2 separate regions of the Homo sapiens genome follow, and region 2 is linked to region 1. Evidence: fine-mapped expression QTL. A gene starts in region 1. The other region holds a variant in brackets. All regions are shown on one strand. Distances are between the middles of the regions.

Region 1 (15,404 bases):
GAGGGGAACCTAGTCCAGGTGGGGCCAGTGGCTGGGGGAGGAGGGGGCCTTAACAGTGAATCCTACAGCACTTGCTGCATGCTCTAGCCTTCAAAAGTGGTCTGAAGGGTGCAAAATGCAGACCCCACAGCAAATGTCACCTGGGGAGGGCCTGCTTGCATCAGCTGGGACTAGCCAGCCACACATGACACTTTAAGGTGGAAGATACAAAATCCATCTTCATGGAGGAAACCACAGCTCAGAGAGGGGGGTCCACCTGCTCAGGGCCCCAGAGCCATGAGCAGCACCAGGGCTCAAACCCATCAGGTGGGACCCCCGAGGACGCGGGACTTGGGTAGAAAGCAGGGACTGGCCCCTGAACTCCCCAAACCTGCTAGTTCCTCCTCAGGGGGCTGGAGGGCCATGGGGCTGTCCTGTAAGAAGGGACAAAATATCCCCCAAATGGACGCGGGGGTGGAGCCCTGGAGCCAGGTGTGAGTGGGGCGGGGCACACGGGTGTGGTGAGGGTGTCGGGGGGCAGCCGCCGGACACAGCACGCGCGTCCCCACCAGTTCAGCAGCCGGCGCAGGAGCACGATGCCCACACTGCGAATTGGAAATTAGGCGCGACCACGTTTCCGGCAAGGCTCCTGGGGACAGGCCCCGACAAGACAGGGCGCTTAAGGAATTTATGATGGCTCTTCTCTCCTGGAAGCTCTCTTGGCCCAGACCAGGACTCCAGGAGGAGCAGGCGGGCTGGGGCAGGAGACACCCTCGAAGGAGGGAGGCCTCGGGAGAGGCCAGAGCCAGAGGCACCAGGGCCAGGCCTATTTTAGGGAGGAGGGAACGGGTGGCTTGCCTGAGGCCACTGCGCTGGGAGAGCGGGCAGCTCCTCCCCACCCGGCCCTGCCCTGCCCATCGCGGCCTCCTGGACTCACCCTGACCCGGCCCTGCCCTGCCCATCGCGGCCTCCTGGACTCACCGATGCTTCTCTTCCTCCGAATGGGCAGGGGCCGCTTCTCGGGCACATGCTTAGTGGCATGGACCCCGTGAGCTCTCAGGCTGGTGTCCAAAGAATCCTCACTCCCTGCAGGCGGAAGGAGAACACCGTGAATGCCCCAGGCCCGTGCGCTGTGCCCTGGGCCTGTCCAGCCGCACTTCCCACAGACCAGCTTTGGGAGCCACTGGGGAACAGGCACCTGGCGGCACAGCCCCTCACAGCTCCCGCCATTAGGGGCCCTCCAGGAGAACCTCGATTCCCACCAGGGCTTTCCAGAGATGCAGGGCATGAAACACTGGAAACCGCAGAAAACGCCCCGTTAGCACAGAGGTCCCCACATTCAGGGGCCCGTGACGAAGCGCAGGGCCCTTCGGGGAAGAGGTTGCAGGTGGTCTCCCCTACGGTGCCTCCTCCAAGGTAGCCCAGGTGAGGGCTGCCCCGGGGCAGGAGGGGCCTGAGGCCGCCCAGCTCCGTGCACCTCCCCGAGGGGCACAGGGCTAAGCCAGGCCCCACCTCTGTCTGGGGGCTGGAGCGAGGGAGAAGCAGAGGCCGCTGAGATTTCTGCAGGTGCCTGTACGTCTCCCTCCCTCCCCCTCACTAAAGCACTCCTGGAAGAAGTGGCCTAACCTCTGAGGGGCACTGGAAGCCGCCAGACTGGGCTGCGGGCCAGACCCCACTCATTCCTGAAATGAGTCTACTCTAGGGCCAGCGGCCATGAGGAGAGGCAGGAGGGCACGTGGCCTCTCGTGGAGGCTACACGGAGGAGTTCCCGCAGCCTGACAGAGGGAGGCGGCCTGCGGAGAGGGGTTGAGAGAAGCTGGCATCTGCGAGCCGTGTTTACAGCCAGGCGGCCAGGTGCAGGTGGGGCAGTGGCCCAGAGCCAAGACCAGCACTGACCGGGGAGCAGAACTGAGAACCTATCCCCGCCACCCCACCCAGCTGCACACACCACCCCTTCACAGGCGCTGACGGCTACAGCAGACAGGCTGGGGGAGTCTCAGGTCTCTCCAAATCCCGCAGTAGGGAGAGGACCCACAGTCCTGCCCATGGACACACTGCCCGCACCTGGGCACCGCGGGTGGCTCTGGGCCTCCTTGCCTTGGCCCCCTGGTCCCAGCTGGGGAGTCTCTTCCCATCTCCCTCCATCCTGCCCCCCCCACCATATAACCAAGGGTGAACAGGCGCGGAGACAGTGAGCCTCACAGCCAGGATGCTCCAGAGGCACAGAGATCTCCCTGCCCCCTCCTGGGAAGCTTGGGAAGTCCCGGTCACCAATCCAGACGGCTAATGGGCTCTGCACCTCCTGGGTTCAGGACTAGCAGCCCAAAGTGTCTCTCCCCAGCCCATCGAGGCATCCGTGACTATCCACAAACCAACCGGAGAAACCTCAGCTTCCTCCGCACCCCCGAGGAGCCTGCGGATTTAAAATGAAGCCCGCAAACCTCACAGAAGGTGTCAGGCAAAGACGAAGCTCGCCCGGAGCCCAACTTTTTACCGAAAATGACTCAATGTTCCAATGACACTAATTTTTTTTGAGACCCAAAATAAGATCAGAACAGAACTACTCATGCAGTAAGAATTTCCCATCAACCAACTGTTACAAGCAGCATTTCTTTTCATGAAAAAGTGACACTTATGAATCACATCCTGGTGGTGGCCATCTTGCCATGGCCAAACCAAAGAGTAACGGGTCCGTTCTCCACTCGTAGGAGAAAATTCAATAACACCAGCTCCCATTTTCCGATGCCTTGTGATAGCCACGTTTGCATTAGCTGCTTTACCAATGACTTAGCTTCTGAGTGTGCGGTGGGTGCTATCACTTCTTCACATCCGAGGAAACTGAGGCCCAGAGAAATATAACAGGACCAGAAGTGGCTCGCAGGAGACTCATGTGGTCTGCGTCCACAGAGCACAGTCCCCGTGCCCCGCCACCCTCTAGCCCTGGCTTAATAAACAGAGAAGACGGCAGCCGTGCTAGCTCATTGACCCCCAGAAAGCCTGAGCTGGCAAATTTCTTGAGACAAGGGACAGAGGGGGAATAGCTCCCAGTCTACCAAGCCCACCCTTTGCTCCCAGCTCAAGATGCCGAGAGTGGACCACGCTCACCAAAGCCGCCCACAGCTCACCAAACACAGCTCTGAGCAGCCCAGGCCCAGGTGGCCTGGCCGGCAAGAATCACCCCTAAAACTGCTCCCAGGACAGTTAACCAGGAGGCTTTCCCTTTTGTCTTTTAGGCACAGATGTCCCAAGGACAACTCCAGGACAGGGAGAATCTCCCAACCATCAGTCCTGGTCTGGCATTACTGGCCCGAGATGGGGCTATTTACGTTATCAGCCGCTCAATGAACCACGGGCGCCAGGCCAGACCACTTTGGGGAACAAAGCTCCCCAGCTGCCACTGCACACAGGACAAACAGGCCCTAAACGCGGGCTGCCGGTCATTAAAAGACCACATGCTGGCCTCTGGATCTAAAAGCCACAGGTGAAAAGCCTTCACTCTTCACTCCAGCACACCCTCCGAATGAAACGCTTGGGCTCCGGGAGGATGGTGAGGAATCCCACTACCCGTGCTCCTCCAGCCACAGTCAAGGAGCGGCCAAGACCCCAGACGGTGCCTGGCTCAGTCTCCCCAACTGTACAGTGGGACGCAGCCTGCATGCTGGGAGGAGCCAAATGCCAGTCACAAAGCCCCACCCACCTGGAGGAGGAGTCAGCATAGCTGGGGCGCACCCCTGGGATTCCTCAAAGCCTCTTTTCTGCTTCCTACAGCGTGGGCCTTAGAGGCACCTAATGCCAAGAACATCAGCCTGGAAGGGTTATAAAGGGACTCCGAGGGAAAGTTCGTTGCGTTGGGTTTCTCCCAGCACCCAGCCCCTTCCTCATGAGCCCCTGCACTGTCCCCTGCCCCTAACAGACCAGAAGCACCTCTGGATTGAAAAGGGAGTCCAGGACCCGGAGGGATGCTTACCCAATGAGAACTGACCTCAACCAGTTTACAACCCTCCCTACGACAGAGAACGGGAGTTGAAGAAAAGACACCCCCTACAAGCTGGAGGAGCAGCCGGTGCCTCTCCTGTCCTCAGGCGAGAGACTGTGGGTTTCTCTGGTTCTGTTTTCAGCCACACCTGGGGAGGGGACTGGACAGGACCAAGGAGGCCCCCCTATGTTACAAAAGGTCCCCCACCAGGGGCAAGAGAGGAGGTAGATGCCACCCCCATATTCTCACACACAAAGCCTCCCAGACACTAGGAGAATCCTATTCAGACCCCAAAACCTCTCACGGACACAGGAGGGCTGAGATCCACTCTGCATTCCCTGGGGCAGGAGGAGAGAGCTCCTGGGACATGACTGCAGAGGGAATTTGAAACCGGCCAGGACTAGCTTAGGGGCATCCTTGTTTTTTTCTGTTCGGACCCTACGACCTAGAAGCCCCCGGGTGAGGAATGCCATCAGCATACCCCACGAAGCTGCAATGCTAAAGGCGATAATGGGTGGGGGTGGAGGAGGCGGGGCGCCAAGACCAGAATAAGAATAGTCCCAGCAGAAAGTGAATGGCCCATTTCCCTGCAGCTTCCAAAGCCAGTCCCACGAGGAGGCCCAGCTCTCCACAAGCCTCCCCTTCTGCTAGCACCCCCCCCCAGAAAAAGCCCTGAAACCTTCTCCAGGAAGCAGCCCCCCCCCCCCACTTTTCCAAACCCATCCAGGACCAGCGAGATTCAGGCAAGGGATTCCCCCCCACAAACCAGAGCCAGATCCTTTTCCCTAGAGTTATCCACTGAGGGATCCGGTCAAAATCCCCCCGCCCAGCTGTGCTGTGGGAGTGAAACTCTACCGCACCCCCCACCCTCCGCCCCCGATAAGGATCAGCCCAGGGATTTCCTGGGTCAAGAAACTACAGAAACCATCGGCCTTGTTAGAAAATGGTTTTGGCATGAAACGAAAATAGTTCAGGCCTCTCCACCACCATAATTAGGTACAAATTTCCAAATGACTAGACCATGTGATTTCACTTAATCCCCGCATGCCCCCCCTTTTTCAGAGTCCTTTGCAGGGAGAGAAGAATCTTCATGTCACGTAACTTCTTCCAATTCTGCTGCCTTTAGTTACTCTTTTTAACAAGTTCATCGCAGAGCCCCTTTTTAAACCAGGTTAAGGCTCCGACTGGAGTTCCCAGGCCGAGTGCTCATTTTGAAAAGAGCGCCACGCACGCCTGGAAGAGAGACCTCGCCTTCTAGGAAGGGGCTCTCTAGCCCTGAGCGGGCGGGCGGCCACCCTACACCCTCGCCCCTCCCACCCACCCGTGGTCCACCGGGGTCCCCCGGGGTGAGAGGCCCCTTTAACCCTTGCCAACCCGCAGCAAAACTCTGTGCTTGCAAACAAGCTGTGTTCTCTAGTGGCCCGGCCCCAGGGCCCGAGGGTGAGCCGCAAAAATAGCCCCCAGGCAGCAGATGCGTCCAAGGCTTTTCATTGGGTCGTGAAAACAGAAAGACACCGGCTTCTGCAGCCACAGAGGCCCAGCCCTGCGGCAAGAACGCGGCACCAGCTCGCAGGGATTACAGAGGGGGCCGGGCCCTGACCCGGGGGCCGCCTCCGCCCGCCCGCCCGTCGGACCGGGAGCCGCGCCTGCCCTTGGGGCCTCGCTCCGCGGGCTGCCCGCCCGGCGCACGGGCCAGGGCTCTGCGCCCAGGGTCTGGGCCGGATCCTGCCGCTCCCCCGGCCCGAGGGCAGGCGCGGGGCCCGCACACCTGGCGGAGGCCGCGGCTGAACTTTGTGTGACACACGCGGCGTTTTCCTTAAAGGCGAAAACAATCCCGGGGCGAGCGAGCAGCCCTCGGCCGCCGCTGGGAGAGAAAGTGGAGACTGGAAGAGAAACTCCTGACTCATCCGCCCGGGCGCTTATGGCTGGGGATTGGATTCTGACCTTTCGGTGCGCTCCTGCGCGGCGCCCCGCCCGGCCCCAGCTCGGGGCGCACAGGCCGCCCGCCCGCGCCCTCCCCGCGCGCGGAGGGAAGGGGCGCGATTTACCTACGGAGTCTATCTCCAGGAGTCGCTGGAGGTCCCGGATGCTGTGGATCTGACTGCGGGCCAGCCTCTCGATCACCTCGCGGGGGATCTCGGCTTCCTGCAAGCAGAGGCCACACGGTCAGCGCCCGCGGCCCCGACCCCGCCGGCACGCGCCCCCGGCCGCCAGGAGCGCCGCCGCCCCGGGCCCGAGGAGACCCCGCGAGCGCCGGCCGCAGTCCCCGCCCCAGCCCCCGCGGAGCCCTCGCCCCGGCCCTGGAACCAGAAGCCGGGGGTGGGGCTGGAAGAGACCCCAAATTCTCCACCCGCATCCATGTTCCGCCCTTTGCAAAATCAAAGCCCCCCCCCCTTTATATTTTCAGACAAAAGCCCCCGCACTCCGGCCCCTCCACCCGGGGTGTCAGTTACAGAAGGTCTAGGGGGCAGCGAGGGGGCCGAAAGTTTCTGATTTAATAGTGAGATCAACATCTAGAAAGATCAAGTTAAAATGCGTCACGGGTCGGCGAGAGTCACGGCAGCCCTAACACTTTAATCCAGGCAGGGCTTAAATTTCACGCCCCGGAATCCCGGGCCGAACCCGTGGAGAGGTCTCTCCGTCTCACAAACACACGCACGCGCGCGCAGACACACACACGCGCACACACATCTCACTCACACACTCGCCCCACCCCGGGCTCCGGCCCAGCCGCGGCCCTAGCGCCGACTAAGACGCCCAAATCCAGCCGGCGGCCGGGAGAAGAAGCCTCCAGGGAAAGCGAGGGTTAAACTTCCACCTCGCGCAGCTCTCCGTGCCCTGCGGAGACCACCCTCACCTCTGGCCTCCCCCACTCCCCTCCCCGATTTTTAAGGAGAGTCGGGGGTCGCTGGGGAGCCTGAAGCACTAAGTTCCCACGACGGGGGCTGTGGAAAGTCATTCATCACAGCAAAGCTCCCGGGGATGGGGATGGGGATGGGGATGGGGGGGCGGGGACGCCGCGGTGGGAGGGTGCGGACGCCTGGCCCAGCCCCAGCTCGCCTCGCTCAGCCACCTGTAAGCAGGCCCGGGCGGGCGGGACTGCGCCGGCCCTGAGCCCCGCCGGGCTTGGGGACTGGGAACCGAGGGCTGCAGCTTGGCGCTGCCCACCCTGCCCGGCCAGGGGCTTCCGCAGCAGCCGCCCCTACCTATTTATCCGCCGCCCTTCTCTCCTCCCCAGGCTCCGCCGGCTCACACACACCCCCTTCCCCGCTCCCCGCACCCCGCTGCTGCAGCGCCCGCTGCGCCCCAGCTCCCCTTCCCCGGAGAGGACACTGCGCCCCCCGAAGTTTCTGCCCACTCGTCCACCTCGCTGCTCCCCGGTCCCCCCGAGGCAGAGCGACCGACGCAACACGCTGGAAACTCCCCACACACACTTAGGCATGGCAGAAAATAGAACCCAGTTGGGAAAATCTAAACATCGACCACCCTGGCAGGAACCAAAACGCTCTCTGCAGAGCCCGTGGCGCCCCAGCCGGCGGGGGGTGTGCGCCGGAGGAGCCGGCGCAGGGACGGGGCGCGGGGGCGGCACCAACCTCGGCCAGAACATGGGCGAGGTATCCGCAGCCGAGGAGCAGCAGGCAAGCCAAGGTCCTCATCGCGTCCCGAGGCGCTGGCTGCTCGGAGGAGAGGCGAGGCCGCGGGGCGGGCGCTCCAGCCGGTCTCCTGTGGCGGCGAAATTCAGTACCATCCCTTAGGGAGCGCGGCCCGGAGGAGGGTGGCGCGGGGAGCACGGAGCTGGCGGAGCGCGCCCGGCGCGAGCAGTGAGTGCGGAGAGGCAGGCAGCGCCAGCCAGGAGGAGGAGAAACAGGGAGTGCGCGCCCGCAGCGCGGGGAGCCTCCTGGGCCGCCGGGTAGGGGGTGGGGACGGAAGGGGCGGAGGGCGGGGGCTGGGCTTCTTCCTCGGTGCGTTCCCGGTGCTGGCCGCCGCCGCGCTCGCTCCCCGCGCTGGCTTCAGGAGCGACCCGGCCGGTAATTCTGCATATTTGCGGACATCAGCCCCAAGAAGAACTCCGGAGGGAGTCTGGGGCCGCCGCCGCCGCCGCCGCCACACCGATCACCTGCCTGGACGCCTGGCCCGGCCCCGGCTGCGAGCTGCGAGCCGCCCTGCGCGCCCACCGCCGGCCCCGCGCTCGCCTCCGGCCTCCTCTTGCAGCCGCCGCCCGGCCGGGCACAGCGCGGCCCAGCACCCCCTCCGCGGCGCGCCCTCGGCTCCGGCGCCGCGCTCCGCCCTCCGCTCGCCGGGGCCGGGCAGCGCCCGCGGCCGAGCCGCCTGGCAGCCACCACCCGCCGCCCGGGGCCTCGCTGCGCCGCCCGCGCGGGCCTGAGGGCGGGCGCAAGGCCGAGTCGGCGCCTCCGCCGCAGCCGCCGCCGGGAGAGGAGGAGGAGGAGTAGGCGCAGGCCCGGCTCGCCGGAGTTGGGCGGGCTCCGCAGGGCGCGCGTGTGGAGCCGGCCGGCGGCGGGGAGAGGGTTATAGCGCCGCCGCCGCGCCCCTCCCCCGCCCCCGCCCCCGCCCCCCCCCCCCGCCTCCCCCGGATTCCGGGCCTGGGACCCGCACCTCGGAAGCGCTCGGGGTTCGTGCGGACCCGGCAGGGCCCGGGCGCCGCCGCCGCGGCAGGGAGCACACACGCGCTCGCGCAAGCAGCTAAATCCATCAAAGCCCCGCGCCCGGCTCCGCGCCGGGGCTCCGCGCCCCTCCCTCGAGCTTGCCCACCCTCCAGTGCCAGCTGCAATCCTGCGGCACCGGGTGGGGAGGGAGGAGGCCGCCGCAGAAGCGCCGCCGTCGCCGGCTCGCCTCTCTCGGGCCCCAGCGGCGGCAGCGGGCAGCGCCCAGAGCTGCTGCGCCAAAAAGGGCCAGAGAGCCGGTCCCCGCCCCCGCCCCGGCGCTCCGGCCGCTCTCCACGGTTCGGATCCAGGGCCCCAGCCTTCCTCTCTCCATAAAAGGAGGGGGAGTCAGTCTTTGGGGAAGGAGGGGGGCGGGTTTGGGGCACTCACCTGGCGGCTGCCACGCGCCCCCGCCCAGGATCCGAGGCCTGGGGCATCTGAATGAGGACCCTCCACCCACATTTCCACTTGGGAGCGAGCTCCAGTCGGGGAAAGGGCCTGCAGCCCGCCTCGTCCCCACCCTGGGACCCCGCGCCCCCCAGTCCCCCACTCCCGCGCCGAAGGCAGGGCCGCGCCCTGAGCCGGGAAGTCGAGGGGATGGAAGGGAAAGGAGCCACCGGTGAGGGTCCCCCGGGTTCTGAGCCTCCCGCGTCGGGATCCGTGGGGCGCACAGAGCGCCACCTCCGGCCGAGGCGCAGCTCAGAGCGCGATGCGGGGGAGGAACGCGCGCGGAGGCCGAGGTCTGAGCGTGGCTAGACGGCTCCCACGCCGAGAAAGGGCGGGTGCGCCTGGGCTGGATGGATTTCGCCTCCCTAGACCAGGAGGGATTGGACCCTGACTACAGGTCCAGGTGCTCGTCAGTGCCCTGCCAGGGGGTCTACGCGTCCTGGTACCGGGTCCAGCGGGGTGGCGTGCTGTGCAGACCCCGAGGCTAGACGGCCTAGGCCCCTGGAGCCCAGGAGACGCTTCCTTGGGTGAGCAGCGGAGAATCCCGCCCGGCCCAGCCGTCACCCCCAACCCTGTCGATTAAACCCCTGCCCCCGTCGCGGTCGCCCTCCCTCCAGACAAAGGCCGTTAAGGCGCAGCCCCGCGGGCGGTCTTTCATCCCCAGCTAGGCCAGCTCTAGCATTTCAAAGGCCGAATCCGGAGAGCGCTTCGGGGGCTCTCCCCTTCCCCCAAATATTTGGGGAGCGACGCCTCTCCCTCCGCTCCCAGTGGGTCGCGTCTACACGCGCCCTTCCACACACCTGCAGGCCCCCTCCCCACGTCTCTCCCTTCCGTTGGCCGCAGCCCCACACCACGACCCCCGCGGTCAAGCATGCCCTCTGGGTGGTCAGGACCAAGCGGGACCGGGACAGAACCAGGGGAGCCTTGGAAACGTGGAGGAGCCCCTTAAAGCCAGGCCTTGTCCCTCCAGGGGGAACTTGCGGCTTGGGAGGGGACACCCACTGCATGGCTTCTGGAAAGAGCCGGACTCGCAGGGCCAGGACGCAGGCCGGACCCCGGCCTCATTCTTCGGCCAGTTATCCCGGAGTGGCGCGCATCCTGTCTTCCTGGGCCTCGGACTGCTCGCGCGCAGAGGGGGCCCGAGGACACCTCTGTGGGGTTAGAGGACTCGGTAAGACGGTGTGGAAGGCAAGGAGGAAGGTCGCGTTGTATTGGGGATGGGGTACCCGTCCCTCCCAGCTTGAGGGATCCTGGGGGTCCTCGCCGCCTCTGAGGGCCTAGATGGCTGCTTCCCTCGGCTCCCCTGCCCGGCCTGGAGCTACGGGTGCGCCCAGCTAGAGTTTAGGGCCACCTGGGGACGTGCAAGGGGCGCTGGAGCGAGGCGGGGGCTGGGGCGGGGCGTGGGTGCTTCACCCGCGGGGGACGCAGAGCTTAGGCGAAAGCGGTGCAGGCATCTCTCTAATCGCCGGCCGCTATTAAAAATAAAACCGCGACCCGTCGCCATGGCGACCACAACAACAGCGGCCGCGCGAGGGAGGCGAAAACTTGTGCAGCCGCGCGACAGCCGCCTTCTGGGGAGACTCGGGGCACGACGCACCCGGCGTGGGACTGGGACCCCCCTGCCCGGCCCCGCCACATTCTCCGCCGGATCCCCGGAAGACACAAGGAGACGTGGACCCCCACAGGCTTTTTTGGGGGGATTGGGCGTTGAAACCGCAGGGCTGACTTAACCAAGAGGTCACCGACTTGGATAAAAAACCCACGCCCGCGCGGACCCCCCTCCCCGGCCTTCGTTTCCATTCAAACTCCCAGCGTCCTCATTGCAGCCCCTGGGGAGGGGGACGGAGGGACGAGGTGGGTTTCAGGTGCTCGGCCCAGGAGGGGACGGTGCGACCCGGGCCCCGCCGGCGGGTTTTGCGCGCGGAGGCTGCGGCACCTGCCCCGCCCGCCCTGCCGCGATCCTTGCAGACGGGGGCGGTCACATGCTTCTTTCTGGCCAGGAATCGAGTTTCACTTCCAGCCGCTATTAGTCGGTTCACACAGTTCACTGCAAACATTTGATAATGAGGCTAAATATACTCCCGCGTCGGAGGAGGCGTGGGCGTCCCCGCCCAGGCCCGGGAGACAGAGGCGCTGACCCCGGGACAGAGCCTGGCTTTGTGCGGGAGGCAGACGCGCCCCGCGCGCCGCCCCCGAAACATTCGCACCCCATGCTGAGGCGCGCGTCTGGGAGTCCGTGGGCGCCCCGAGGTGAGCCCGGGGCCCCTGGCGGAAGCAGCGGGGAGCTCCCGGCGGGTGCGGGGAGGTGCTGGTGGGAAGCAAGGTGCACCTGGCGGCCTGGGATGTCCGGTCGCCCCCGGAGCCGGTGCATCCGGCCTCTCCCGGCGCGCCCCGACGTGCCCGCGGGCTCATAATTACCGTGAGTCAGGTGCCCCAAATAGGCCGAGCGAGGGGGGCCGTCGCGCAGCAGGGGCGGGTGGCCGGACGTCTGCCCGGGACTGGTTGCCTCCCGCCCCTCCCCAAGACCCTGGCACCCAGGGAGGGCGGGAAAGGCCTTGGCCATTCCTCTGGGTAGGGGACTGGAGAGGGGAAGAAACTTTCGCCGAGTCCAGCGCTGCCCCCTCATACCCATCCCCACCCAGGCTGCGTGTCCGGGGCCCCTCCGGGGCTTGGCACCAGCAGGCACGCAGCGATCGCCGTCGTTGTTATTTAGTAGTAGTAGTAACGGCTGACATTTACAGCGACGTCGATGGCGCCAGGTGCCAAGCTCTTTCCTTGTATAATTTCATGGACACTCACGCATCAACTCTAAGCGAAGACTTGGAGCGGGGCTCAGCACCCCAGGGGTACCTCTGCAACCTCGGTAAATATAGACTATCCTCAATTCGCAGGGGCATTTGTACGTGGGGTGTACAGGCAGGAACAGGAAAGACGCTGTGGCCACCCAGGAGTAGGGGCGGCAGCCAACACCCCCTGGATCCCCAGTTCCAAGGTGCAGGGAGGGGGGCAGAGGCCAGTTCCCTCCGCTCTCTGCCCCTTGACCTTGGCCTTGGTGAGCTCTGTCCCTAGACTGCCCTGGGTGTCTGTTCCCTCATCTGAAAAGCGTGAGGCCCACAGCCGTCACTGCACACAGCTGCCGTCACTGCACACAGCTGCCTCCACTGTCGGGAAGCCTCCCTCCTGCCCACCTGCCCAGGAAAAGCTGCGCTAGCGTGCCCTGGGCAAGCGCCCTGCTGGCCACCTGCCTGCACCTGGGTTGGGGGTGGGGGGACCAGCTGAGCACCCAAATCCTGGCCTCTGCCCCCAGCGCCAGAGCAGATTTCAGAACAATTTGTAATGACGAAACCCCACGTTTCCCTTTATCTCTGGGCAAGGCTTTCTTCGTCCTAGGCAATTAATCCAAAAGCAACACCAGCCGAGTGGGCTGGACTCCTTGAAGATCAAAACTGCCCAGCGCAGGCATTAATTAAGTCATTATCTCAGGCCCCCAGCGACTAGGGATCAGGCCTTTCCAGTTCACACTCTCCAGAAAGGGAGATAACTGCCCCGCCAGCAGGGTGGGAAGGCTCTCTCTCCATGTTGTTTTAACTCCCTATTAAATCATTTTATTTTAAATACACAAACAGAAATGAAGTTGAAAATAGCACAGGAGCCCACTATCACTGTGTGAACATTTTGTGAATGAAGACATGTATGAAAGGATGTTTGGAGGCTTCAAGAAACGAAAGCCGAGAGTCTAGCTAGACCAGAGCCATCCAGCCCAGGAGCGATGGCCACGTGTGGCCGCTGGACACGAGAGACGTGGCCAGTCCAAACTGTGCAGTGCGGTAAGGGCAGAACACATGCCAGCTTTCGAAGGCTTAGTAAAGAATGCAAAATTTCTCAATTGGGAATTTTTGTATGAATTTCAGGTTGAAAAAAACATTTTGGATATATGGTGTTAAATAAACATGATTACAATGACTTTCGCTGTCAGCCTCCCGGAGGCTCATTTTGCTCCTCTGGGCCACAGCCAGCTCAGAGGGTTGCTCTAGGAAATATCTACACGTTCTTGAAGCACAGGTTTATGTGCCAGGCACTGTACTAAGTGCTGGGGACACGGCGTTAAGACCAGGCCCTCACGGAGCCCTCACTCTCTGAGGAGGAACAATAAGTCAGAGAGCGCGCGAGTGCAGCCCTTCAGGCAAAGGATTTCAGGCCCAGGTCAGGAAGGCCTTGTCTGAGGAGTCTGAGAAGAAGTCAATTGACAACAGCTAGAACATCTAGGTCAGGCACTCCAGGCCGACACGACAAAGCAGGTGCAAAGGCCCCAGGGCGGGAACCAGCGTGGCTTGTTCACAGAACAAGGAGGTAGATCGCTTGCCCTTGGGACCAAAGGAAGGCTCTGGATTTTATTCTAGGGGCAGTGGAAGCCGTTGGAGGGCCTCAGGCAGGAACACAAGGTGTCGTGGCAGAAAGGAAGAAGGGGCCGGGCACGGTGGCCCACACCCGTCATCCCAGCACTTTGGGAGGGAGGCCAAGGCAGGAGGATCGCTTCAATCCAGGAGTTCAAGATCAGCCTGGGCAACACAGCAAGACCCCGTCTCTACTAAAACCCTAAAACTTAGCCAGGCTTGGTGGCATGTGCCTAAGGTCCCAGGTCCTCGGGAGACTAAGGCAGGAGGATTGCTTAAGCCCAAGAGTTTGAGGCTGCAGTGAACTATTATCACACCACTGCACTCAGCCTGGGTGACAGAGTGACTCTGTCTCAAAACTAAATAAATAAACAATAATTGTGTTATTCTGTCTCCATTTCTCGCATACTGAATTTAAGGTGGACTCAGCCAGCGGGTTCAGGCCCAGGGTCTGTCCTGCAGCTACAGTCAGGGTTGGTGGCTGCAGCTGTCATGGGGGAGCGGTGAGGTTGGGGGAACAGGGGGGCTGGCCTGCATCCCCCACTTTCAGGTGGGCTCAACTCCGTCTCGTGGCCTATTGGGGGCCAGCATGGGCTTCCTTACAGCATGGAGGCCTCCAGGGTCAAGCTGCCTCTGGGATGGCAGAGGGCTTTGTGTTCGTGCTCCCACGCCCACAGTGGAGGCAATACACCCTTTCCAGATCTAGCAGTACAGGTGCGCAGCACCACACCTCTGTACGCTCTCAGCCTAAGCTGTCCCCAGCCCTCCTGGCCTCTGGAGGAGGGGACGCAGAAACTCCATCCCGGACAGAGGGAGAGCCAGTGTGTGCACAGGCAGCTTCTAACACTGCTTCGTGGTTTCACACGGCTCCCTCATGGAGAAGGGGCTGGAGGAGGACAGGGAGGTGTGCAGTCATCTGGGTGACATATGAGGGTGGCTGGGCTTCCAGATGGCTGCAGTGGAGACCGTAAGAAGAGTGCACGAGGTAAGGCTTCCGAAACGCCCAGCAGGTTCCTGGCAGCTGCAGACAACTCAATTCTTAGCACTTGCCAATAGCTGGGGTGTAAACACTCCCGCCGTCGCTATTTCGGGCTATGCTCCTTGCCTCCACTGGGTCTGGCTCTTAAAACAGCAAGAAAGCAACTCGGAAGCTGAGTCAGCCCCGTCTCTCCACCGTGCCCACAGATCCTTCCCTGTTCCAGAGCTCCCGTTGGCAGCCAGCTGGGCTTCTCAGGGGGCATCTCCAGTCCTGTGCAGTCAGAGAAAACCAGGGAAGCATCTTGATCTCACCTAGAAATTAAGGCCATCACATCCAACACCTGCATTTTACAGGTGAGGAGGCTGACATTACAAGTAGTGGTGGTGGTGACATTTGAACCCAGACCCCTGTCCTCCGGGGCCTGTTTCCCTGGGAGCTGCGGACTCTGCGTGGAGACACAGAAATAGAGACCCAGATGGCTCCCGTAGAAACAGAGTCACCCCCCAGGGCAGCTGGAAGGGAGTGGGAGAGGACAGGTCCTCAAGGGCCTCTGCTCTCCACTTCCCTCCCCGCCTCGCCGTGTCCTCTCCCTTCCTCTCTCCAACCCCTGCAGGGGGAGGCCTGGCTGGGAAGAGACGTTTTCTGAGTAGATGTTTTGGCTGGGCAGACTGAGCTTTGAGAAGCAGCCAGGCCGAGCGGGGCTAGGGAGTGAGGGCATTGGGGAGCCTGAACTTTAGTGACCACTGCCCCTCCCAGGCCAAAGCCGCAAACCCCTCCCATCCCCAAGGGCTTCAGACTCAAGGCCCAAGTTCCTGCATGTTGGATGTGAATTCCGAGTTCCAAGGTGGGGCAGGCGTGGGCCTGAGTCATCCGGCAGGTCACTGGGGTCACCCGGTTAAAGCCCAGGCCAACCCCAGAGCGCTTCCCCTGGGCGCTGCCCACAGCCTCTGTTCCTCTCGTGACCGTGG
Region 2 (15,404 bases), 31 kb before region 1:
CCACCCTGGTGAGGACAGGAGGCACTCCCGGGGCTCGCATGGCTGCTGACCGCAAGCTTATCTCTCCCTGTGTGCATGTCTGCCCCTGGAGACAGGACTCTCTAGCTGCCAGCCTCCCGGAGAAGCCCCAGGCTGAGCTCACCCAGTCCCCTCCAGGCCCTGAACTGCCTCTCCTCGTCCCGAGCAAGCACTCTCCTCTGCCCAGACCCCTGGCTCCAGGCCAAATCCAGGGCTGCTGAGGAGCCCGAGGCCAGGCCCAGGGGAGATGGAGGAAGTGTCAGGTGCAGGCCAGGTCGCTGTTTTCTGATTGATAGGAAAAGAGGGCCAGGCAGGGCCCTGCGGAGGGCAGGGAGGAGTCCAGGTGGAACCTGGGAGGGGAGGCAGCTGGCCAGGGCTCCAGGGAGCCTGAAAAGAAAACAGCCCCTCTCCGAAGCCTGGCACTGTCCTTCCTCTCCCCTCAGGCCATGGGCTCCCATGGAAATCAGGCCAGGTCAGAGGGCACCACAGTTTAAGTGTGAGCCCCTGCAGATCTCAGATCCGTGAGCTGGGGACAGGTTCCCTGGGGCTGCAGGAGCTCCAGAGGAAGGCCGAGGTGGGGCCAGCCCGGCAGGACACAGGTACCTGGTCCCGCTAATTAATTGCTTCCAGCAGGCTCTGAAGAGCAGCTGGGCCCAGGAATGCCCCCTCCAGTGAAGACCGACTCTGTCTAACTTGTGAAGGTTTGGATACTGACGGCGAACCGCTCTTAATAAATCTCTCTCTCCTTCTCATGCGCAGCTCATCTGCAGGGCTTGGTGCCTCTGGGGGGCCAGGACGGTGGGCAGCCCTCCTCCCGTCCCCACACTCCTCCCCTCCCCACCCTCCTCCCTCCCTTCCCGCCCTCCTCCTGTCCCCACCCTCCTCCCCTCCCCAACCTCCTCCCCTCCCCACCCTCCCCTCCCCACCGCTGGGGCTGGTCCTGCTTCTTAGTGCCCTCCTGCCTTGAATGAGCACAACCCATGCGGTGGTCCTCCTGCGTGCCACCTTCTCTGTGCTTCACCTGCATCCCTTGCTGGTCCTTGGGTTCAATAACACTGTGGGGAGTCTCCAGAGATCCCACTAGACCAGATCAGGGGCCCTTATGGACCCTCCCCACCCACCTGAGAGGCAGAATAGCCTAGAGATTAAAAACTCAGAAGGGCCAAGTTCACATTCTGACTCCTCCACTTACAAGATTTGGTGTAAGATCCTTCCTGAGCCTGTGCCTCAACTTCTCCATTTTTGAAGCATAGGTCTCTGGCAGCACCTACCCATGGGTGGTTGTGAGAATTAAAACCTAAAGCATCTAACACCCCATCTGCCCCCAAGCAGCACTAGTCACTGCTGTCATTTCCTTCAGGCACTTACTTCAGTCTACGATTATGTTCCTTTTTGTGTATGATTAATGTCTAAATTTCCCTCTTAATGGTTAGCTCCAGGAAGGCAAGAAATTCATGGTGTCTGGCAGAGTGACAGGTCCCTGTTAGGTGCTCAAGAACTTATGTTGTATGGATGGATGGATGGATGGATGGATGGATGGATGGATGGTTGGATGGAGGACAGTTGGATGGATAGATGGATGGATAGATGGATGAATGGGTGGATGGATGGATGGATAGGTGGATTGGTGGATAGTTGTATGAATAATAGACGGCTGAACAGATTGATGGTTGGATAAACGGATGGGTGAATGGGTAGGCAAGTGGGTGGATAGTTGGATGGATGATAGATTGTTAGATAGATGAATGAATGGATGAGTGGATGGAAGGGTGAAAGGGTAAGTAGATGATGGGTAGATGGATGTGTAGGTGAGTGAGTGGATAATTGGATGGACAGATAAATAGGTGGATGGATGGATGGATCAGTAGATAGTTGGATGAATGATTGATGGTTGGAACAGTTGGGTGGATGGGTAGGTGTGTTGATAGTTGGATGGATGATAGATGGTTGGATGGATTGATGGATGGAAGGATGGATGGATGGATGGATGGATGGATGTGTGAATGGATGGATGGGTAAGTGAATGAATGGGTGGATAGTTTGATGGATGGATAGATGATAGATGGATGGATGGTTGAACACATGACTGACTGGATGGAGGGATGGATGGATGGATGGGTAGATCAGTGGATAGTTGAATGAATGATAGATGGTTGGACAGATGGGTGGATGGGTGGGTGGGTGGATACTTGGATGGATGATAGATGGTTGGTTGGACTGATAGATGATGGATGGATGGATGGATGGATGGATGGATGTGTGAGTGAATGGATGGGTAAGTGATGAATGGGTGGATAGTTCGATGGATGGATAGAAGATGGATGGATGGTTGGACACATGACTGGATGGATGGATGGACGGATAGTTGGATGGATGGATAGATAGAGAGATAGATAGATGGATAAGTGGATGGGTGGATGAGAGGATCTAGTACCAGGGGGATGGCTCCACCTTGATATCCAACTGAGGCCCCTGCCAATGGGTCCATCCTGATTTTGAGGAAGAACTTTGGCGGGGACCTGGGCCAGTCCTTGGCCCCCCCACCCGTGGGATATTGGGCGGGCGGGGATAAAGGGACAGCCTCGGTATCATGGACAAAGGGGCTGCACAACATGGGTGGGATGGGAAGACTGGCGGTGAAATACGCGGGTATGGGTTAAAAAATGGATGGATGGATGGATGGATGGATGGATGGATGAGTGGATGGATGGATGGATGGATGGATGGATGGATGGATGAGTGGATGGATGGATGACAGGAACTAGGACCAGGGGGATGGCTCCACCTTGATGTCCAACTGAGGCCCCTGCAATGCGCACCATCTGATTTGAGGAAGTATCTCTGCTGGAACTGGCCAGTACTTGCCCCCTCACTGTGGAATTTGGGCTGAGCCTGGAAAGCTGCTCCAAGCTATTTGCAAAGGGGTTTCCAGCCTTGGATCCCTAAAGGCTGCCAGAGAGAGGCTCCTGTGGTTCCCTGGGACAAGGAGACCTCCTTCATCCTCCATGCCTGTTTCTCAGACAGTGAAGACAAGGCACAAATGTGTGCTTTGGAGGTGGCTGAGGGGCTCAGACACTGCAGTGTGCAGGCGCCTGCCAGGCCTGATGTGGTGATGCTCGCTCAGGGCCTCTAGGGCAACCCAGGGTCATGTTTGATTTGACGAAGGGGTTAAGTGCGCTGCTCTTTAAAAGCCGGAACACAGACAATGTGAAGCTTCCTCCCTCAGACCCACCACATTGGTGGGCTTTACTTCAGCCCTAGGGACTCCTTCTGTCCCCTCACCCCTCTCAACTCCAACCCCCCCTCCCCAGACTGCAGAGAGGGGCCGGTTCTTGCCAGAGTCGCTCTTAGCCGTTTTGTGAAAAATCCATTTATTGTCTTCATTGCTTGGGAAGTTATAATCTTGAGGCTGCAGCTTCCTAAGGCGTTGCCATGGAGATGAATTTTCTGTCATAAATAAAAGTATTCTGGGGTCAGGAGATCTCAAGCATAACTAGGACAGATTTTGAGGGGGAAAATGCAAGAATTTCAGAAGCACATGAGATGATTTGGGCTGCCTTTTCCGGAGGGTGTTTTTTAGGCTGTCCTGAATTTGGCCTCTAGATGTGGGACCGTCCCTCTGCCGTACCCCCAACCCCGTTCCCCCAAGCCGACACTGTGTCTGCCTGCCCCTCCCCTCCTCCACCTGCTCAGGGCCAGAGCCTTGGGGGACCTGGTTTGGAAATCCAGGTTGGGGTGACGTCTGGGGTCACCCAAAGACGGGCTGGCTCCCAGTGTGTCCTCAGACAAGCCTTTCTGTCCCTGGCCCTAGACCCTGCCTGGGTGAGGGCCTCATTCACTCAGCCTAGGATTTTTGGAACATTCCTCACACGCCTCCTACGGGCCAGGGCTCACTCAGGTATTTCCCCTTGGGCTTGGGGCAGGCAGGGGGACACTCCCACTCCCGCATGACCCCTGCTTCCGAGGGCCCTGACCCCACCCCCACTCTTGCTCACTTCCCACCAGCCCCCATGGACATTAGCTTTAGGGATTTCCTTTTGTTCAGGGTCGCTGCAGGTCTGTGTTCGAGAAGGTGGGGGAGGCGGGACTGGAGCCCGGGAGGAAGGTATGCAGGGCTGAGGGGCCTCTGGAAGCCACCCAAGCCGACAGCCTCCGCCAGCAGTCAAGGGCTGTTTGCCAACCCCCATGCACCCCCTCATTAGGTAAACACAGAGTCCTCCATCAGCACAGGGCCCCAGAGCCATCCCTTGCACAGAGGCCCCAGGGTCCCCCGCGCTCGAGGGCCCCCCATGACCCTGGGACTGGGACTGCGGCACCCTGGGCCTCTCCTCCCAGCCCCGAGGCTCTCACTGGAGGACCCATCTTCCAAGGCTGCCACAATCCCAGGAGGCGGCTCCAGCCCCAGTAGCTCCAAAAAAACGAATGGAGAGGTGAGGAGGGAGAGAACAAAAGAAAGGAGGGAATGAAGGAGGGAGGAGGCTACGGGGTGAACCCTTTGCAGTTTGGACCTCAGACTGTGGTCCCCTCACCTACCTCCCCGGACAGCACCACCCTCCCTTCCCACCTTTGATGGGTCCCTGTCCCAGGAGAAAGCCCATAGAGACATCACACGGGAAGATCCTGCAGGAAGCCCTTCCTCCCTTGCAAACACTCGCAAAAAACGGCCCTTGATCATGGAGAAACAGGCTTCCAGGGCCCCCAGGGGCTGGGGTCCACGGTTGCAGGCCAGCAAGCCACAGCTCCCAGGCTGGGGCTCTAGTGAGTCTAGCCTCCCCAAGACCCACTTCTGCCAGGGGTTCTCTGCCTCCTGATAAATAACTGTGACACTATCTGCCCACATCCCTTGCTGAGCAGCAAAATCAACACAGGACAGGCTGTGACTCGCCAGGCCACGAGGAGCTGCAGGACGTACACACTGCATCGCCATCTGTGGGGCTTGGACAGCCACAGGAGGGACATGGCCCCAGAAGCCTGGCAGGGCATCCCACTGCGAGGGCCCCTCAGTGCCAGCTCTCGTGGCCTCTCACCAAGTCTGGCCCCAGCCCAGCTTTCCATCGCCACAAGCTTGTGCAGTCCACACCCGCCACCAAGAAGGGCGCTGGGGGTTGGGGCCAATGCCAGGTGGGGCAGGGAGGGGACGCTGTGGGAGGGAGGGGTGGCTGAACAGGATAAGGGCCCTGGAATGCACGGCTCCACCCCTGGATGGCTGTGTCCTCGTCCACAGAACAGGGACAGGGCCGCAGAAGGGCACTGTCAGGAGGCGGGATCCCTGTACCCTGATGACTCCCGGGAAGCGGCAGAAATCACGGTCATGAAGGATTCGTAACCGGGGCAGGGCTCTTCTCAGAGCGGGAGAAACAGACAGCGTCCAAGGAGCACCCCACACTGTCCCAGCTGATAAATGAACACAGCTGCAGACCATAGCAGGGTCCTCAGTGAGTCCGAGCTCTCCTGACTCCGCGTCGGACTGAAGCATCCTCGAGGGTGTCTATATGAGCCTGTGTGTGAGCTTGTGTGTGAATGTGTGCGTGCCTGTGTGTGAATGTGTGTGCCCGTGTGAGCCTATGTGAGCCTGCATGTGAATGTGTATGCCTGTGTGTGAATGCATGTGCTTGTGTGTGAGGCGCGCTTGTGTGTGAGGCATGTGAATATGTGAGCCTGCATGTGCCTGCATGAGCCTGCGTGTGCCTGCGTGAGCCTGCGTGTGACTGTGTATGCCTGTGTGAGCATGTGTGTGCGTGTGACTCCATGAGCCTGTGTGTGAATGTGTGAGCCTGCATGTGAATGCGTGTGCCTACGTGAGAATGCGTGAGCCTGTGTGTGAATGTGTGTCCCTGTGTGTGGACCTGCA[C/T]GTGAGTGAGTGTGCCTGCATGTGAATGCGTGTGAATGCATGAGCCTGTGTGTGAATGTGTGAACCTGTATGTGAATGTGTGTGCCTGTACGTGAATGTGTGTGGTGCTCCATGTGTTTTTGTGTCTATGTGTTTGTCTCTGTGTGGCTGTAACTTTCTGTGACTCTCCAAAAACCCTGATTCAAAACCAAAGACACCACAGGAAAAGAGGACTACAGAACAATTTCCCACTTAAGCATGGACACAAAAATCCTTAACAAATGATTAACAAGTAGAATCAATATAAAAAGAAACGTATTTAATGACCAAGGTGGGTTAATCTCAGGAATGCAAGGTTAATGTAGCATTTGAAAAACTAATCAATGTAATTCACAATAATAGAATTATGTAAAAAAAAATCACATGGTAATTTTAACAGATGCAGAAACCATACAATGAAATGCAATAGATGCAAAAAAAATGGACACAATTCAACAACTTTTCATGATTTAAGAAAAACAAAAAACCCTCTCAGAAAACTAATAGGAGAAGCAAACCTCCTCAACTTCATTAAAGGCATCTACAAAACAGCTACAGCTAACATCTTACTCAATGTTGAAAGGCTCATTGCTTTCTAGCTAATAACAGGAATAAAGCAAGATTGCCCATTCTATTGTCACTTCTATTTGTTCTGGAGGTCCCAGCCAGTACAACAAGGCAAGAAAAAGAAATAAAAGGCATACAGAATGCAAAAGAAGAAATACAACAGTTCTTATTTCCAGATAACATGATCATGTATGTAGAAAACTCAAAGGAATTTCAAAAGAATTCTACTAAAACTAATAAGTGAATTTAGCAAGGTTGCAGGATCTAAGGACGATATACAAAAACAAATTGAAATTGAACAACTAGACCAAAGATCAACCAGCAAGTAGAAGACCTGGACAACATCATACACCAACTCGATCTTATGTGCATCTACAGAACACTCCATTCAACCATAAAGGTATACACATTCTTTTTCTTTTGGAGATGGAGTCTCGCTCTGTCACCCAGGCTGGAGTGCAGTGGTGCAATCTCAGCTCACTGCAGCCTCCACCTCCCGGGTTCAAGCGATTCTCGTGCCTCAGCCTCCTGAGTAGCTGAGATTACAGGCATGCCCAACCATGCCCGGCTAATTTTTGTATTTTTAGTAGAGACAGGGTTTCACCATGTTGGCCAGGCTGGTTTCAAACTCCTGACTCAAGTGATCCGCCTGCCTTGGCCTCCCAAAGTGCTGGGATTACAGGTGTGAGCCACTGCGCCCATCCAGAAACACACATTCTTTTCAAGTGCACGTGAAACATTCTCCAGGATAGACCATATGTTTGGCCATAAAAGAAGTCTCAATAAATTCAAAATAATGAAAATCATACCAAGTATGTTCTCTGACCATAATGAAATAAAATTAGAAATCATTAATAGATGAAAATTTATGAAATTCACAAATATGTGGAAATTAAACAACACACTCCTACATAACCAATAAGTCAAAGAAGACATCCCAGCGAAAACCAGAAAATACTTTGAGATGAAAGAAAACTCAACTTACCAAAGCTTATGGGATGCAGCTTAAAACAGTGCTTAGAGGGACATTTATAGCTAGAAACTCCTAATTTTTTAAAATAAAAAAGAAAAGACGTCAAATCAATAACTTAATCTTCCATCTTTTAAAAAATGGAAAAAAAAACCAAACCAAACCCAAAACAAGCAGAAAAATGAAATAACAAAGATTAGAGAGCTACTTGAAAGGCTGAGGCAGGAGGATCACGTGAGCCCAGTTCAAGACCAGCCTGGGCAACATAGCAAGACTCTGTCTCAAAAAAAAAAAAATTACGGGGGAAATAAATTTTAAAAATAAAGAGTAGAAAAACAATAGAGAATATTAACAAAACCAAAAGTTGGTTCTTGAAAAAAATAAAATAGACAAAACTTTAGCTACACTGACCAAGAAGTAGACAGAATAATCAAATTACTAAACTCAGGAATGAAAAGAGGGAACATTAGTATCAGCCTTACAGAAATAAAAATAATAAAGGAATGCTGTGAACATTGTGTGCCAAGAAATTAGATAACCTAGATGAAATGAACAAATTCCTAGAATCACAAACTGACTCAAGAAAAAGAGGCCCGAAGAAATATGAAGACTTATAGTAAGCAAAGAGATTGAATTAGTAATCAAAAAACTTCCTACAAAGAAAAGCCCAGGACCAGATGGCTTCACTGGTGAATGCTACCAAATATTTAAAAAGGAATTAACACAAATGCTTCCCAAACTCTTTGAAAAAATAGAAGAGGAAAGAACTCATTCTGTGAAGCCAGTCATAACCTGTCACCAAAACCACACAAAGACATCACAAGAAAACTACAGACTACTATCCCTCATGTATAGACACACAAAATTTCAATAAATAAAAATATTAAATAAATAAAATATTAAAAAGCCAAATCCAGCAACATACAAAAATAATGACTGTGCTCCATGACCAAGTGGGATTTATTCCAGGAATGCAAAGGTGGTTCAACATACAAAAAAAAAATCAGTGTAATATACCATATTAACAGAATAAAAATAAAAATCACATGATCATCTCAACTGATGCAAAAAAAGGACAATCTAATATTTTTTCATAACAAAAATAAATAAACACTCAACAACTAGGAATAGAAGGGAACTTTCTCACCCTAATAAAGGACATCTACATAAAACCCACAGCTAGCTAAGGCAAAAGACTTAGAACTCTTCCCCTAAGATCAGGAGCAAGACAAAGATGTCGGCTTCAGCCACTTCTAGTCAACATTCTACTGGAGGTACTTTCTAGCCAGGGCAATTATAAATGAAAAGAAAACAGTTTTTACAAAGAACAAAGCTGGAGGACTCACAATTTTGGATTTCAAACTTACCACAATGTCAGTAATGAAGACCCAAGGCATAGGGAGAGACATATAGATCAATGAAATAGAACTGAGAGTTCATTTAAAAAGCTATACATTCATGGTTGATTGACTTGTCAAGGGTGTCAAGACTATTCAGTGGGGAAGAAGAGTCTCTTCCACAAATCGTGCTGAGACAATTGGATTTCCACCATACAAAAGAATGCAGGTGGACCCCTGCCTCACACCACATACAAAAATTAACTGAAAGCAGATCAAACACCTAAATATGAGAACTAAACTATAAAACTCTTAGAAAAATATCATAGTCACAAACCTTCATGAATGCATCTTGTGTACAAAATTCTGAGCAACTCTGGTCTAATCTGGTTTAATCCAACAGTTCAACCACCTTACAGTTGAGGAAACTGTGGCTCAGAGAGGGGTGAGGCTCTGCTGAAGGTCACTGACCCCCCATGAGCAGAAATGACCTTCAGAACACCCCTCCCTTTCCTGCACCAGGCCAATTCACTGAGCCATTTTGGTATGCAACTCTCTGCTGAGCCAAGAATGAACAAACAAATTAACTTCTCGGCAGGGTGCAGTGGCACTTGCCTATAATCCCAGCACTTTAGGAGGCTGAGGTGGGAGGATCCTTTGAGCCCAGGAATTTGAGACCAACCCGGGCAACAAAGAGAAGCCCCGAGGCCACACCAGTCCCACCTACTCAGAAGGCTGAGGCTGGAAGGATCAGTTGAGCCCAGGAGGTCGAGGCTACAGTGAGCCATGATCGCGCCACTGCACTCCAGCCTGGGCGACAGAGAGAGATACTGTCTCAAATGAATAAATACGTATAAAAATAAACAAGTGACTTTCTTGAGACCCAGTAGCCATAAGTCCTCCCTGACATCCACAGTGCAGGGTCTAGGCTTTTCCATCCATCAGGGCTGGAGGTCTGGCTGTGTAGACAAGTCCTAGCTCTTGGTTCCTGGGGGAGGGGATTTGGGAGTCGACCGTGCCAGTGGACGCTGAGTAGCACAAGGCTGTGCCAGGAGGTCCAGAGGAGCCCAGGACAGGGCAGAGCCTGGACTAGAGACAGGCAGGTGGTCCTGAGGTCAGGTGGGGTTCACCACTGAGTTATGAGTCTCTGCCTGACAAGCTTGAGAAGCCTCCCACGCCAGGTGGCAGCTGCCTCTCTGGACCACAAGCCCCGGCACGCCAGAGCGGCTGCATTCCCTTCTGAAATGCAGCTGTAGGGAAAGACCCAAAGCTCCGACCGCTGACCCCTCCCTGGGGATTCAGTGAGACCTCGGAACCCCTGGGGCAGGCGTGCTGGGGACTACGTGGGGGGATACCTGCGCCATTCCCCAGACGCCTCTGGGGACCTGCTGGGGCTGAGCAGGGACAAGGAAGCCTCAGTGTTGGGAGCACCTAGATGGAAAGATTCCCAGCCAGGCCTCCCTGGCAAGGAGGTATGGAAGGGCAGCAGAAAGTGCCAGAATGGGGCTCCCAACCCAGCCTCTGCCCCACAGCCACATCTCCCAGCCCTCTCCGGAAGGGGTGTCACAGTACTGGCACCAATGGCCCTAGTGGGGGACAGGGGCTGTGAGGCTGGTCCTGCCTCGTGTGTGCTCTGGGCTTTTTCCTCCCAGAGTCCCCTGAGGGAGACAGATGGGGGTTGCAGCTGGTGCTCTGTGGCCCGCAGGGGATGGGGGGGTCTGTCGGCAGTGGCTCCTGCAGCCTGGGTCTAGGGCCTGCAATGGGCTTCCCTGCCTGACTGGGGTTGCCTAGAAGTCAGAGTCAAGGAGGGGTGTTTCTGTCTGTCTATATGTCCTGCACACCAGACGACTAAGGGCCTTGGTGGAGCCCCATGTCCAGGGCCTTGGGGCCACCAGGCTCCAGCTCAGAAACCAGAAGGGCCCGGGATGGCTTCCACCACCCAGGGAGGGGCGAGCAGGGGCCTCAGCCGCCGGATGCTGGTGCGTGGCTGGGTGACCGGGGGCCGGATCATAAATACTGCACATTTTTTGGTGGCTCAAAGGCCGGGATAGAAACAGTGGCTGTTTTATTCTGTAGAAACCACACGCTTTTCATCTGAGTACCCTCAGGGAGTGGGGTTGGACTCCAGCTGTGCCAGGCCAGGGTGGGAGTCCAGGGGGCAGGCCAACTCCCGCTTGCTGCAGTCACCTTTGAGGCCCCGCTGGGTCCCGGCTCCCACCCCAGGGAGAACGGGAGCAGCCTCAAATGCTGACGGCGAAGACCCAGGGCCCCCAGAAGTGCGAGGGCCTCCTTCAGTGCCCGCTCGGGGCCAGGGACTCTGCCAAGTGACCTGGTGTGCCCAGAAAGGACTCAGCCCCCAGCGCTGGGCAGGGCAAGGTGGCCTGGGAAGTCCTTCAGGGAGGGCAGGCAGGGACGCTTCAAGAGCCTGGGGTCTAGAGGTCTCATGGTGCCGGCCCTCACCACAGCTCCTGCAGCTCTGTGCCTCTACAAGGGCCGGCCACTAAGGAGTCCTCTCACTCAGTCTTTCCATCAGGGAAGCCACTCACAGGTGGGCAAAGGGGGGTAAGGGTTGGCGGTCCTGGAGCTCAGCCCATCCCACCGAGCCTCCCTCTCTTCCAACCAGGGCAGTGGTGCAGCCCAAGGTCACAGTGAGGTCATCCAACATCAAACAGCTGGGCAGAGCCCAGCAGAGCCCAGTACTCTCACCCCATGCTTGGCCGAACCTGGGAGGGGGCACCTGTCTCCCAAGCACTCTGACTCCCTGACCCCAACCCAGACCAGGCCTACCAAGTACCTGTGGTCCAGCTCACACCGGGCCCTGTCACCAGGCAAGCTTGGAGGTCTGGACGGGGGGCTCTGGTTGCCAAGGCCCTGCAGACGGCCATCCCATAAACAGCCCTCCCCGGCCACTCACTCCGTTTTCCCAGCTGCCGCCCCATCAGAAAAGTCCTGCGCTTCAACCCCGTTCCTTCAGCCTGGGCAGCCCCCCTGCTCCGGTTCCCCTGTGCCACGACAAAGCCAGCTCAGCTGAGGTCATGAGGTGGCAGACAGGGGCCAGGGTGTGACTGGGACAGTCAGGGTCAGACAGGGCCCGGAGCCCTGGAAGCTTCTCAACTTTGTTCTAAGCCTACAGAGCAGCAGGGGCTCTAGGAGGGGTGGGGAGAGCAAGGTGGCCTTGGGTTTGGAGAAGATAACCCTGGCTGCTCTTGGGAGAGCAGGTGGCTGAAGATGGCACGCAGATGGGTGGGCGACAAGGTTGTCCAGGTGAGAAGCAGCCAGCCATGGGGAGGCTGGTGCAGGACCCGGAGCAGTTGGGGCCATGCATACACGGGATCTGCCCTCGGGCTGCATGTATCCTCCTGCCCACCTCTGCTCAGCTCCTGCTGCTGCCACCTGGCTTCCTGCCCAGGCCTTCTCCAAGCCTCTGGGGGGATCCTGGAACCTCCCGGCATTCATGTGTGCAGGCTCCAGGTCTCAGGATTTGGAGCCCGGAGCTGATTCAGTGAGGTCTCCCACTTGAACATTTCACACCCCAGCCCCTCCCTGTATTGCTGGTATCTGCCCTCCCGTAAACCATATGCCCACAACTCTGTCCTTCAGGTTCTGCCTCTGGGGCACCCAGGCCAAGGCAACCCCCAACATCCCACTTAGTAGCCTCATCTATGAACGGCACCCCGATTTCCTCGGGAAACCCCGTCCTCCCCCATTTTCTGTCTTGTGCTTCTGATGGAAATCTATCCCACAACAGAAACGGTACATGGGACTCAGACCCAGCGGATCCCAGGACTCCGGATGGAGCCAAAGTGAAAGGTGGGGCCTGGCGCGGTGGCTCACACCTCTCATTCCAGCACCTTGAGGGGCCGAGACGGGAGGATCGCCAGAGGCCAGGAGTTGGAGACCAGCCTGGCCAACATGGTGAAACCCTGTCTCTACTAAAAATACAAAAAAATTAGCCCGGCGTGGTGGCAAGTGCCTGTAGTCCCAGCTACTCGGGAGGCTGAGGCAGAAGAATCACTTGATCCCGAAAGACGGAGGTTGCAGTGAGCAGAGATCGTGTCACGGCACTGCAGCCTGGACGACAGAGCCAGACTGCGTCTCAAAAAAGAAAAGAAAAGAAAGGCTGGGCGAGGCAGGCGGGTCCCCTGGACACTGGGGGACGATCCCGCGGCAGGGCTGGGGGGTGGTTCATGGCACCCCTGGACCTAAGAGTAGGAGGCACGAGGCCATGCCAGGCCCCACCCCAGGCCCCACACCTGGGGCTGTCAGCTTGGAGAAGCGCAGGGTAAGGGGGCACCGGGAAGCCGGACCCCGCGGAGACCAGGCACCGCGCCGAGGTCGTGGGAGACGCTTCGGCCCCCTCCCGGCTCAGAGGCCCCACCACTCTCCCCGGCTGGCGACCCCTCGCGGATGCTCTTCGGGACTCTCCTCCCGCCTCGGCGCTCTGGGGACCCACGTCCTCCCGGGCTGCCACAGCCGCCGCCCACCCTGCTCAGCGCCACTCACGGGTTCATCCTGCGGCGCACCCGCCTCCCGACGGCTAGGGGGGAAACTGAGGCTCTGAGGCGTCAGGAGCCGGCCAGCGTGGCCGCAGGGGCAGGGCCACCGGACTGTGAGGCGCTGGCTGGGCCGTGGGAGGAGCCCGGCGTCGGCCGCTGGGGCTGGGGGCCGAGGCGCGCCCACCTCCAGGGTCCCCGGCACGGGAGCCGCAAGGGCCAGGCCTCCTTCGCCCGCACCGACCCTCCTAGCCCGCCCGCCCCCGGGGCGCCGGAGCCTGGAACCAAAATTCTCCCTGCAAACGGAGGAGGCCACCTTCAGCTTCATCGCTGGGCACGGGTGGCGGTCACAGCGCTCCCGGGGTCTGTCACCCTCGCCGGGCGCCCCGGGAAGCGGCGGAACCCACAGGCGGCGGGAACCTGCCACTTCCGGTCCAGCCTTGGCCCCGGGCCGCGTCCACGTATCGGGAGCCTGGGGTCCCCGTTCTCAGGACTGGGCCTGTGTCCCCTCCTCCTGCCCATCCCGGAAACCCGGGGACCTCAGGACCAGGACTTCCTGGAAACGGCTGTACAGAGGGGACGGGGGAATCCGTGAGGGGGATGGAGGGGATCCGTGAGGGGACGGGGGATCTGTGAGGGGGACGGGGGATCCGTGAGGGGGATGGGGGATCTGTGAGGAGGACAGGGGATCTGTGAGGGGACGGGGGAATCTGTGAGAGGACAGGGGATCTGTCAGGGGACAGGGGATCTACGAGGGGACCAGGGTTCTGTGAGAGGATGGGGGGCTTCTGTGAGGGAACGGGGGTCTGTGGGGTGCAGGAAATTCTGTGATTTTTGCTACTTGAGTTCAAATACCTGCTCTTCCTTTTGGACCTGGAGGTCGCCATCTTCCCTGGGGTCTGTATCTTGGTCCTTGCTGACCCCATTTCCAGGGAGCATGCAGAGGCAAATCTCTGTGAATCTTGGCCCTTTGGTGATAGGTGCAGGGCAAGGAGCTTCAGTCCCAGGCTGGGCACCTGCCCAGGACACAACCCCAGAAGAGCCTGGCTGGCCCTGCTGTTTGCAGGCACTTGGGGAGCTCCCGCCCCAATGCTGCTCCGGAGTCTGGGGCCCAGCCCACCCCTGGGGTGGGGCAGAGTCAAGGCCCAGGAGATGGAAGGGCCCCTGGATGCCCGGCCACAGCACAAGTCCTGCCTCTCTGTGTCCTGCGACCCTTCTACTTGGGGCCCCCTAGGCGTTCCGGGCCTGCCAGGGGCACAGCTCACTCATCTTTAAAATGGGAGCCAAGCCCTCAAGTTCCCACCCCTAGAATTCTTGGAGGAACCCATGGCTAAGTATGAAAAGCCCAAAAAAACCAAGGAGGTCCCAGGAGGGCCGTGGCTTCTTGTGCTTGACAAGAGGGCACAAACCAGAAGGGCTTCTCTGCAGAACGGGATCCCCGAGCCTGGCCCAGCCCAGCAACTGCTCTGCGCACTGGACCCAGGCAAAGACCCAGGCCTCGGCTTCACCTACCGCTGGGAATCCCAAGACAGCTGTAGGGACCCACGGCTGGAGACCACCTGCCGTCACTGACTCTCCCAGCCAGTTCCAACCCCCTCCACAGCCAGGACACAGAGGCCTGGGTGAAGAAAAGGAAACACCCCCAAGCTAAAGGAGAAGCCCAGCAAAGGCTGGGCCCCAGCTCTCATGACCCCTGGCAAGGGCACGGTGTGAGCAGGTGCATTCAGGTGTCCAGGCAGGTGCAGGAACCTCGTTTTAACAGGCGGCACCATCGCCGCTCAGCAATCCCTGAGCCCAAGGGCTCTGTCCTCTGCCATGCTGGGGCCTAGAAACACTAGAGGCTGGAGTGAAGTCCCAGCAGGAGGAGGCAGCAGACAAGACCTGCACCAGGTGAGTCAATGGCGAGGCGTCCTTACCCTGCCTGAGCTGCAGCTCCGTTTCACAGATGTGCACGCCGACATGCAGATGGAGGCCCCTCGGTCAAGGTCACAGGGCTCACAAGACATGAAGAGCTGACCCTGGGCAGAAAGTCACCTTCCTGAGCCCAGATCCAGGTGCAGCCCAGGGCTAGGGGCCGGGAGGGGGCCCAGGCAGGAGCAGAAATCCCGGGAACGCAGGGCAGAGCCGCGACAAAGGCTGCAGGCCCACGT

Evidence for each region.
Region 2: its variant is fine-mapped to the expression of PDGFA in whole blood (INTERVAL, PIP above 0.99).

Annotation. Positions count from the first base shown.
Region 1 is chr7:511,391-526,794 of GRCh38, forward strand. PDGFA (platelet derived growth factor subunit A) reads right to left here and starts at 8,456. Exons shown (of 6, transcript NM_033023.5): 1 at 7,549-8,456; 2 at 6,004-6,100; 3 at 961-1,065. The coding sequence starts at 7,611. It overlaps PDGFA-DT (PDGFA divergent transcript), which reads left to right and starts at 9,001. Exons shown (of 3, transcript NR_033963.1): 1 at 9,001-11,926; 2 at 12,690-12,890; 3 at 13,464-13,842. RefSeq lists enhancers at 938-1,445, 4,232-4,733, 5,403-6,325, 7,248-8,169, 10,014-10,935 and 1 more and silencers at 5,483-5,582, 7,426-7,515, 7,976-8,115, 8,396-8,485, 8,586-8,925 and 3 more.
Region 2 is chr7:480,735-496,138 of GRCh38, forward strand. No RefSeq gene overlaps it. Among named protein-coding and RNA genes, the nearest start is that of PDGFA, 31 kb to the right of the region's middle. RefSeq lists enhancers at 9,906-10,685, 10,686-11,465, 14,713-15,404. The variant C/T (reference allele first, on the strand shown) is at 5,870.